2 separate regions of the Homo sapiens genome follow, and region 1 is linked to region 2. A link means that fine-mapping ties the variant in region 2 to the expression of a gene that starts in the linked region. Tissue or cell type: whole blood. Region 2 holds a variant in brackets; the other region holds the start of a gene. Each region is shown on its reference strand, or each on the opposite one.

Region 1 (5,000 bases), not on the chromosome of region 2:
GCCCTCACTCCTGGCCCAACAGGCACTGCCCCTCCCCAGTGCCCCAGATGGCCAGACTGCTTCTCGTTTCTCCCAGATCAAGGAAGCTGTTCCTGTCCTAATTCCAGTGTAGATTAGCACCTGTCCCCCTGCACCCTTCCCTTCTGCACTGATACCTAGGACCCAGAACTTTCCAGGTTGTGGAGATTCCGCTTTCCTGTCTGTGACCTCCCTGAGGACTAAAAATGTGTTTTGTTTGTGTCTTTTCCTCTAGTATTTGGCTCAGTCTTGTTGAATGGACAAATGAAAATCTGACTTAGAGATAAATGAAAAATGTAGATTTTTTTTATCACCAAAAAACCCCAAAACCAAAACCCAGACACCAAAAAATCCAAACAACAACAAAACCCTCAAACCAAAGAAAAAAAAAAAACCCAAATGTTTTTTGCTTCTTTCTGAACATGAGGTATCTTGTGAGTGGTCAAAGCCCTTTTCTTTTCCATATTTTCTGTAGTCTTGAAATGGCTATTCATTTAGGAGGTTAATAGTCTATGGGAAGATAATTACTTTGGTTTATTTTACATCCTGTGGCTTTATTTTAAGGCTGATTTGCTCTGGTGTGCTTATGTATTTAATATTTGTGAGATACTTTAAGAAAAATTGCCACCAGGCTTGGTGGCTGATGCCTATAAACCCAGTGCTTTGGGAGGCCAAGGCAGGAGGATTGCTTGAGGCTAGGCATTTGTGACCAGCCTGGGAAACATAGGGAGTCTCTACAAGAAATTTTAAAAGAAATTAGCCAGACCTGGTGTTGCGTGTCTATAGTCCTAGCTACTTGGGAGGCTGAGGCAGGAGGATCGCTCAAGCCCAGGAGTTCCGGATTACAGTGAGCTATGATTGTGCTACTCTACTCCAGCCTGGGCAACAGAGTGAGACCCTGTCTCTAAAATAAATAAATAAATGCAAATGAAAAAAATTGCCCATAGATTTAGTAACGTATTTGACCCCTTTAAAAACAATTAAGCTTTATTTTTTGAAAAACGTTTTGAAGATGGAGGACTCTGCTTATGTGCCTGAGACTGAAAGGTCAGCAATGATAACTCTAATAGTGATTTCATTTGTTCAAATGCTAGACTAGCCCAGTGATGAACTTTGGAATGCCTAGATAGTCTATCAGAAATCTGTGCCTGAAACTTCCAGCCTGGTGTGTGTGTATCTCTTCCCACAAAGAATGTGAAGAGCTGTGAAAACGTGTTCAATAAAAAAAGAGACAATTAAGTGTAAAATATCACTTAAACATCAACAAAAATTACAACTAGGCAAAATATGGTAGTAGGACGACAAGACAATAAAAATGAGAGGTGTGTCATCCAAGTGTTAGCCTAAATGTGGGTAGAGATGACTCTGTGCAAAGATTTTTCTTTCTCGGAGCCATGATATTAACACTGAGAAGAAATGCTGCTTAAGGTACAAGTATGTGCATGGTAAATGTTTATTTTTTTCATTCTTTTGACAGTAATTTAAAAATGTTATCTACGATTTTCAGCATGAATAGTTTTTACTACTTTTTCAGCTTATTTCTAGTTTCCAATAGTATTTATGGCTTTTTTTTTTTTTGCTGTGACTCTTAGTCATTTTTTGAAAATTGACGAGTAAATAGTTACTGATTTTAATACTCTTTTATGAAGAACTATTACACAAGAATTGGGCTTTACACACTGATTTTTCCTTCAGCTTTTTTCTCCACACCCTGTATGTAACACAAGCTTTGTTCAAGGGAATAACTATGACAAATATGTTTGGATACAATTTGATTTCTAGTTTTGGCTTGGAGTCTATGATATTGTGCCTTAGTTACCTTATCTTTCAGATAAAACTTAAATTTCTCAACACCAGTATGTTCTCCTAATGCAAGGCATAATTATTGTAGTGAAGGTATTAATTCATATTTTAATTGATTAATACTGTAGTCATAAATGTACTTTACATTTCCCACAAACTTTCTCTTTTAAGTATGCCTCATTTCCATTTTTTCTGTGAAGTGGTATAACAACTCATACTGTCAATATCCAAAATATTTCTCCCTCCTTTCTTTACATATCTGCTGGGTGCCTCATGGGGAGCTGAGAGAGACATACTTGGCCACAAAGAGAGACAATTCCGTCTTAAACAGCTTTTCCCCAGCATCCTTATGTTGTCCAGTACAGTGCCAGGCTCATGTGATGTACTCAGTAAATATTTGCCCATTTGAACTTTACATTATAAGTAATTTTATCATTTATTTCATTTCATTGTTTATTTTAGTGGTAAAGGGTACCTGGTGTCTATTGATAGAATACTCTTACTTTCCAAGTTCTGAGGCCAGCCACGACCTCAAAGAAAGAAATAATCTTCAAAGCTTATTTACATCTATTCATTTGTTCATTCATGGAAAAATTATGTACGGGAAAAATGTGAAGTGGAAGGAAAGGAGACAAGGATACCCTTCTGCTTCTTTTCTGGTATGCAGAAAATTAATCATATAATTGTTTATTGAATTTGCCTCAAAGGGTTAAATGAGAGAAAGATTGCAAGTCCATCTAACACAGTGTCTGACACATAGTAAATGCTTCCAAAAGGTAGTTTATTTTTATGCAATAGACTACAACCAAGGATCTCTCCTTTACTTCTGCATGACCCAGTGTCCTATTTTCTTGTTTTGTCTTTTTCATTCAAGAATGATCTGTGTGTGCTTTCTTTCTGAATCTGTGAGAGGGGTTCAATGTTTAGTTACATAGTAAAGTGCAGATAAGAACCTTGGGCCAGCATTTCCCCTAAATCTTTTCTATGATTTAAGACACCTTGGGGAAGGGATATATGAGCTGCTACATTAACGGATGATGATTTTTATCTTTACCAAGTGACCCACAATTTGTTACTGGTGCAATAAGTTAAGAAAATAGCATACTTTTATGACTGTCATTTCACAGTCACTCAAATCAGAACTGGAATGTCACAAAAACAACTCCCTGTTAGCCCAGAGGAAAAAAAAAAAGAAAGAAAGTAAAGGGGAAATTCAGATTAGTCACAAAGAAGTTCCCCCGCCTGCCTGCAAAAGTTGCAGCGTTAAAACTGAGAGAGTCCGCTTTGCTCTTTCAATCGCCTTTTATCTCTGGCCCTGGGACCTTTGCCTATTTTCTGATTGATAGGCTTTGTTTTGTCTTTACCTCCTTCTTTCTGGGGAAAACTTCAGTTTTATCGCACGTTCCCCTTTTCCATATCTTCATCTTCCCTCTACCCAGATTGTGAAGATGGAAAGGGTCCAACCCCTGGAAGAGAATGTGGGAAATGCAGCCAGGCCAAGATTCGAGAGGAACAAGCTATTGCTGGTGGCCTCTGTAATTCAGGGACTGGGGCTGCTCCTGTGCTTCACCTACATCTGCCTGCACTTCTCTGCTCTTCAGGTAAGATGCACCACTGGGCGCTGTTTTCCCACCAGCTCATGCTGATGGCAGCTGCAACAGCTGCAAACAGTCGCTTGGAAATAATCTTATGCCAAAAGTGTTGAGTTTTTTTTCCCTCTCCCCACAGCAATCGTAAAGTGTGGTTAAACGCCCTTCTGTCTCTCCTTTCCTTCCTTCTTTTCAGCAGTGGCAGTGGTAGGGCAGAGTGGAGGTAGGGCAGAGGCACAGCTTCTAGATCTTTTTCTTTTTCTTTGCAATGCAAGATTCCTTGTATCCCTTTATAAGCTGTCACTTTGAAGCTTTGAGTCACTGATATACCTGGTCTACCCATTGTGATAGTAATGTGTTTGATCAGGCAATTAATATTAAAAGGAAATAGGAAAGAGACCAGTTCCACTTTCCCATAATATTCATATACCCTATAGACCTGCAAGGTGATTTTCTTTGTAAAGAATGCTGAAGGTATCAATATTAATAGCGGAGCAATGTGTGCGTGCATGTGTGTGTGCCTATGTGCTCACTCATTCACCCCAATGATTTAATCAGATATTGTTTCTCACAATCTATCTCTTCCAGTCATAATTTAAAGACATCATTTCACCTTTTCCCTACCTTATTAAATACATCATGTAGTAGGAGATTATCCTTCTAGTATTTTCCCCATATAGTTAAAATATTTCCATTTTTCTTTCACTTTATTCTTGTTCCACACTTCTCTCTTTTGCATTATTTTTTCTTATTCAGTAGTTCAGATATACAAACATTATTAGGTATTTAAGGATGTTCTTCACTGCAGAAGATGCCACTGGAGAAAAATAAATCTATACTCTCTTCGTGTTCCTTTGTTGAGCTAGTCTGATAATCTTGTTTTCTAGGTGGTTGCTTTGGGTTAGAAATGTTTCTCCCTGATAAAGTTCAGGTAATACAAACTGATTTCTGATGGTCTTGTCTGAGATTAAGCACCTCCAATGAAACCAGAATGAGATGAGCAGTCTTGGCAAATGCCTGGGCTTGTTTCTGCCTACAGGAAATAGGGTTTTCAGTGCATGGAGGCTGGTAAGAGTGTGTGTGGTTATGATCACTGTACCACAGACAGTGCTTGTGTCTCCAAATTCCAGAAGTGTAGCTAGTGTCATGCTCAGGTCTGCAGAACAGTGAGCACAACAACACATTGATCCTCTCCTCATCACACCACACTCTTATGTCTTCTCGCAGAACTCTTTGGGTGAAATTAAAGTAGGCGACTCGGGGAGAGGGTGTGGGGGAAGAGTAAGGTGTCCATGGCAGGATGCCCAAGACATCGACCGGATGCCCAAGACATCAACCGGAATTAGGCTCTTTTGAGAAGAAAACAAAGAGAGTAACCAAATATAGAACAGCTGAGTGCATTCACCAGTCTGGGAGCCCTGAGAGTGCTTTTTCTAACAACCACAGTGTTACATATTTCCTTACACCATGGGATGATAAAACACAGGACACATGGCTCCATTCAAGGCTAACTGATTGCACAACGGCTCTGAGCAGGAGAGAGCAAAAGGTGAACCACAGTTGTACAGCTTGCTGGTGGTTGGGGTCACA
Region 2 (5,534 bases):
TAAAAAAAAAAAAAAAAATTCTTAAAAATATCTCATTTATCTAATTTTAGGTGCAGTCTACATCTGAGGGCATGAGGGATTAGTAAAATAGTATTTAGGGAAAATTTGTAAAGGAAAATGAATAAAAAATTCTGGGAAGGCCTGGCGTGGTGGCCCGTCCCTATAATCCCAGCACTTTGGGAGGCTCAGGTAGGTGGATCACCTGAGGTCAACAGTTCGAGACCAGCCTGGCCAACATGGTGAAACCCCATCTCTACTAAAAATACAAAAATGTATCGAGAGTGGTGGCTCTTGCCTGCAGTCCCAGCTACTCTGGAGGCTGAGGCAGGAGAGTCACTTGAACCTGGGGGACGGAGGTTGCCATGAGCCAAGAGATCGTGCCACTGCACTCCAGCCTGGGCACAGAGCAAAACTCTGTCTCAAAAAAAGAAAAAAAAGTCCTGGGAAATGTGGAAAGGATATTCATCTCGAGCTAGAATCTCAGTAAATGTTGTATTTATCATAATTGTTATCAGCATTCAAATAACATTGATGAGACTTACGAGTCACGAGACCATAGGGTTTGCTATTCAAAATCAATTAGATTTGTTTTGTGGGTCCCATCAGTGGAAGTTATGGGGAGACAAATTGCAGCTTAAAGTAAGGAGACCATTTCTAACACAGACGTCAGAAATTAGAAGGGACTAGAGGGACTATTTGATAGGTAGTGAGTTGCTCATTGCTGGAGGTTTGCAACTTGTTGGGAGTTGGCAATATTATAGAGGAGATTTTAGAATCCTATAGATTGTTGGACTGGAGGATCTTTAAAGTCCTTTCCAACACTTCTGTGATTCTATGATATAAATAGAATGTTATGGGAAATTTCCCTAAGGAGCCATAAAATACTACATTTACATGTACCTATAGAAGAGGCTCACATTCTAAAAAGAATTCCCCAGGTTGATTCTGGTTTTCCTGAAGGAAGTGAGAAGGCAACCAAGAACAAATTGATATCAGGGGAGTGCACATGTCTTGCCGGATGCCTGCTTTCTTCCTCTTGGTGAGTATATACAATGCCCACAGGGCCCCTGCTTTGCAAAGATCACACAGAAAGATGGGTTCTCTTCTCCTAGAGGAAGAATTTTGGTTGAGTTAGCAAATATTTTGTTTTGCAATTGACTAAAGGTAAGCAGATCTTTTCTGAAATATTTGTTTCAGAGCTCAAATTTCAGTTTAGGTGGCTGTTTTCTGGTCTAGGAAGCAAAAGAAGGGTGACAATGGTTTAGTTACCATGCCCCAAAAGCTCATGTTCTTTTCCAAGTCTTAGGGGTTTCCACAGCACAGGGCAGAACTATTAGAAGGGAAGGAAAATGCTGCTGTCACATCACACTGTATATGAGGCAATGTACTTTTGAGATTTAGAACATGTGAAGAGTTGAAAAGGTTTCTGCATTTGGTATCAACTGACATTCTTTCAGGAGTAAAATAAAGCTTTTCAAAGTGTATGAAATAATACATAAAAATATAGAATTTTATTTATTTACTTTTATTTTTATTTTTTTAGACAGGTTCCCACTCTGCTGCCCAGGCTGGAGTGCAGTGGTGCGATCATGGTTCACTGCAGCCTCAAACTCCTGGGCTCAAGAGATCCTCCCACCTCAGCCTCCTAGGTAGCTGGGACTGCAGGTGCGCACCACCATACCTGCCTAATGTTTAACATTTTTTTTTTTTTTATCTTTTGTCGAGATGGGGTCTTGCTATGTTGTCCACGCTGGTCTCAACTCCTGATCGAAAGCAATCCTCTCACATCCACCTCCCAAAGTGCTGAGATTACACATGTGAGCTACCACACCCAGCCTATGTTTGTGTTTATAGCAAGATCTTCTACAGTACATATACTGTAAAATTATACTTCCTTAGTTCTCTAGTGCCTTCCTTTCTTCCCCTTTTGAATTATAAATAAGAGCATCTTCTCACTTCAACTTCTATTTCTGCATATTCTCCAATACCTTCCTGGGCTCCTGTGCCAACCCATGCCCTTTATATCTGGGCTCAGTGTTGGCGTTTCCTGATTTGAAATGCAAAATGGCTGAAAATGTTAGCAATTTAATTTTTCCATTATGACAAATATTAGGCATTCACCTTTATCCATGCCTACTTATTCTGGCAAGGCTAAGGATATTTGGCAAAGTGATTAGAAAACAGCAGTATCAAAGATAATTTCCAGTTGGGTGCGGTGGCTCACATCTGTAATCCCAGCACTTTGGGAGGGAGGCCCAGGCAGGAGGATTGCAACGTAGCAAGACTCCATCTCTTAAAAAAAAAAAATAGCAAGAACAAAAAAGAAAAAAAAAATTAGCCAGGCTTGGTGGCACGTGTCTGTAGTCTCATCTACTAGGGAGACTGAAGTTGGAGAATCACTTGAACTGGGAGGTTGAGGTTGCAGAGAACTATTATTGTGCCACTGCACTCCAACCTGCATAACAGAGCAAGATTCTATCTCAAAAACAAACAAACAAAACTAAAAAACCCAAAACAAACAACAACAACAAATATACATATAGAGAGAGATGACTTCCAACATTAAAATATATCTCCAGTAATTGATAGTTTTGAAGAAAATATTGTAATCTTTGGAATTCTTATTAATATAGAAACAATATTTCTGTCCTGATTATAGGAACTCCTTTCTTTTATTGTTTGGAGCACAGAGGGGCTGCTGAAATGGAGAGTCTCAAGACTGATACTGAAATGCCGTATCCTGAGGTAATAGTAGATGTGGGCAGAGTGATTTTTGGAGAAGAAAACAGGAAGAAGATGACCAACAGCTGTTTGAAAAGATCTGAGAATTCTAGAATTATCCGGGCTATATGTGCACTGTTAAATTCTGGAGGTGGTGTGATCAAAGCAGAGATTGATGATAAAACCTATAGTTACCAATGCCATGGGCTGGGACAGGATTTGGAAACTTCTTTTCAAAAGCTCCTTCCTTCAGGTTCAC[A/G]GAAATACCTTGACTACATGCAGCAGGGGCACAATCTCCTGATTTTTGTGAAGTCATGGAGCCCAGATGTTTTCAGCCTTCCACTAAGGATTTGCAGCTTGCGCTCCAATTTGTATCGGAGAGATGTGACTTCTGCTATCAACTTGAGTGCTAGCAGTGCCCTGGAGCTTCTCAGAGAGAAGGGGTTTAGAGCCCAAAGAGGAAGACCAAGGGTGAAGAAGTTGCATCCTCAGCAGGTTCTCAATAGATGCATTCAGGAAGAGGAAGATATGAGGATATTGGCCTCAGAATTTTTTAAAAAGGACAAACTCATGTATAAGGAGAAACTCAACTTTACTGAGTCAACACATGTTGAATTTAAAAGGTTCACCACCAAAAAAGTCATACCTCGGATTAAGGAAATGCTGCCTCATTATGTTTCTGCATTTGCCAACACTCAAGGGGGATATGTCCTCATTGGGGTGGATGATAAGAGCAAAGAAGTGGTTGGATGTAAGTGGGAAAAAGTGAATCCTGACTTACTAAAAAAAGAAATCGAAAACTGCATAGAAAAATTGCCTACATTCCACTTCTGCTGTGAGAAGCCAAAGGTAAATTTCACTACAAAAATCCTGAATGTGTACCAAAAAGATGTCCTGGATGGTTATGTCTGTGTGATTCAAGTGGAGCCCTTCTGTTGCGTGGTGTTTGCAGAGGCCCCAGATTCCTGGATCATGAAAGACAATTCTGTCACACGGCTGACAGCTGAGCAGTGGGTGGTCATGATGCTGGATACTCAGTCAGGTAAAGGGAAGTGAAGTCATTGTCCCCATCAGCAGGGAGGAACCCCTTTCTCTGCCTTTTGTGGGTATTTGATCACATATGTTAGTTAAAAAATAGAAATTTATTTTTCTTATAAGTGTTCTCCCATTACAGTGTTCCTTATCTAACATTTTTAGTTCCAAAGACTCAGAATATAAACTGAGGTCAAGAAATGTTTGGATTCTATGGCCTAAACAACTTTTTTTTCTTTAGACTCTGTCACCCAGGCTGGAGTGCAGTGGTGTGACCTCGGCTCACTGCAAACTCCACCTCCCAGGTGCAAGTGATTCTCGTGCTTCAGCCTCCCAAGTAGCTGGGATTACAGGCACACACCACCATGTCGGCTAATTTTTGTATTTTTAATAGAGATGGGGTTTTGCCATGTTGCCCAGGCTGGTCTTGAACTTCTAACCTCAAGTGATCAACTCACCTCCACCTCCCAAACTGCTGGGATTACAGGTGTGAGCCACCACTCCTGGCCAGCCTAAGCAACTTTTAAAGGAAAGTTACAGTATGCCATCAGCAATGAGTTAGGAAAGGTCTCCTTTTATTGTCTATAAACCTGTTGAAAAAATTGTGCAGGCTGATCATCCCAGTCAAAATTGGAATAGCCTCATTTTAGAGATGATATTCTAGAGAAACACTGTTTAAGAATAACTCTGAGGCTGGGCGCAGTCCTAGCACTTTGGGAGGCCAAGGTGGGCAGATTGCCTAAGCCCAGGAGTTTGAGACCAGCCTGGCCAAAATAGCGAAGCCCTATCTCTCCCCCAAATATAAAAATTAGCCAGGCGTGGTGGTGTATGCCTGTAGTCCCAGCTACATGGGAGGCTGAGGTGGGAGGATTGCTTGAGCCTGGGAGGTGGAGGTTGTAGTCAGCCAAGATCACTCCACTGCACTCCAGCCTAAGCAACAGAGCGAGACCCCGTCTCAAAAAAATAAATAAATAAAAATAAAAAAATAAAAATAAATGACTCCACTACTCCACTAATTCTTTCAAGCAAAACATTGTTGACAAATTTGAATTGTTTCAGTAACATTAGGAGCTAATAACCTTAAGCCACTGGGCTTAGGGCACCACCAAGTGGGGGAAAATGATGCAAAAGGAGATGCTAGGGCAAGGGGGTGCTGGGGGGAGCAGGACCCCTGGTGTTCTCACTTACCTTTCAGTTTTGATTGGAATCAGCCTTGGTGATTCCTAATCAATCCATAAAGGACTATAGGCCGAACTACGCCTATCTGCTTGCCTTCACGGCCAGTATGTTCCAGATTTCATCAAAACTTGAGTGATTGGAGAATTTTATTGGGTCATTCTTTCTCTTAATTTGTTTGAGTTCACTTCTCTTCTCCTCTCCCCTAAAGATCCTGCCACTTTTGATTCCATCTAACCTTAGATGGGGACATAAACAACTGTAACAACATTTTTTTTTTTTTTTGAGACAGGGTCTTGCTTTGTCGCCTAGGCTGGAGTGCAGCGGCACGATCTCAGCTCACTGCAGCCTCCGCCTCCCAGGTTCAAGCAATTCTCCCACCTCAGCCTCCCGAGCAGCTGGGATTACAGGCACACCACCACGCCCAGCTAATTTTTGTATTTTTTTGTATTTTTTTTTTTTTTTGAGACGGAGTCTCGCTCTGTCACCCAGGCTGGAGTGCAGTGGCGCTATCTCGGCTCACTGCAAGCTCCGTCTCCTGGGTTCACCCCATTCTCCTGCCTCAGCCTCCCGAATAGGTGGGACTACAGGCGCCGGCCACCATG

What was found. PIP is the estimated chance that this variant, and not a neighbour inherited with it, causes the effect.
Region 1: TNFSF4 starts here. The variant in region 2 is the best candidate, but not a certain one, in a credible set for the expression of TNFSF4 in whole blood (TOPMed, PIP 0.77).

The regions. Positions count from the first base shown.
Region 1 is chr1:173,205,446-173,210,445 of GRCh38, reverse strand. It overlaps TNFSF4 (TNF superfamily member 4), which reads left to right and starts at 3,115. Exons shown (of 3, transcript NM_003326.5): 1 at 3,115-3,422. The coding sequence starts at 3,270. RefSeq lists an enhancer at 3,124-3,183.
Region 2 is chr17:35,555,232-35,560,765 of GRCh38, reverse strand. It overlaps SLFN14 (schlafen family member 14), which reads left to right. Exons shown (of 6, transcript NM_001129820.2): 2 at 961-1,039; 3 at 2,660-3,763. The coding sequence starts at 2,704. LOC107985033 (a long non-coding RNA gene) reads right to left here. Exons shown (of 2, transcript NR_138032.1): 2 at 5,217-5,534. Among named protein-coding and RNA genes, the nearest start is that of SLFN14, 2.8 kb to the left of the region's middle. The variant A/G (reference allele first, on the strand shown) is at 2,981.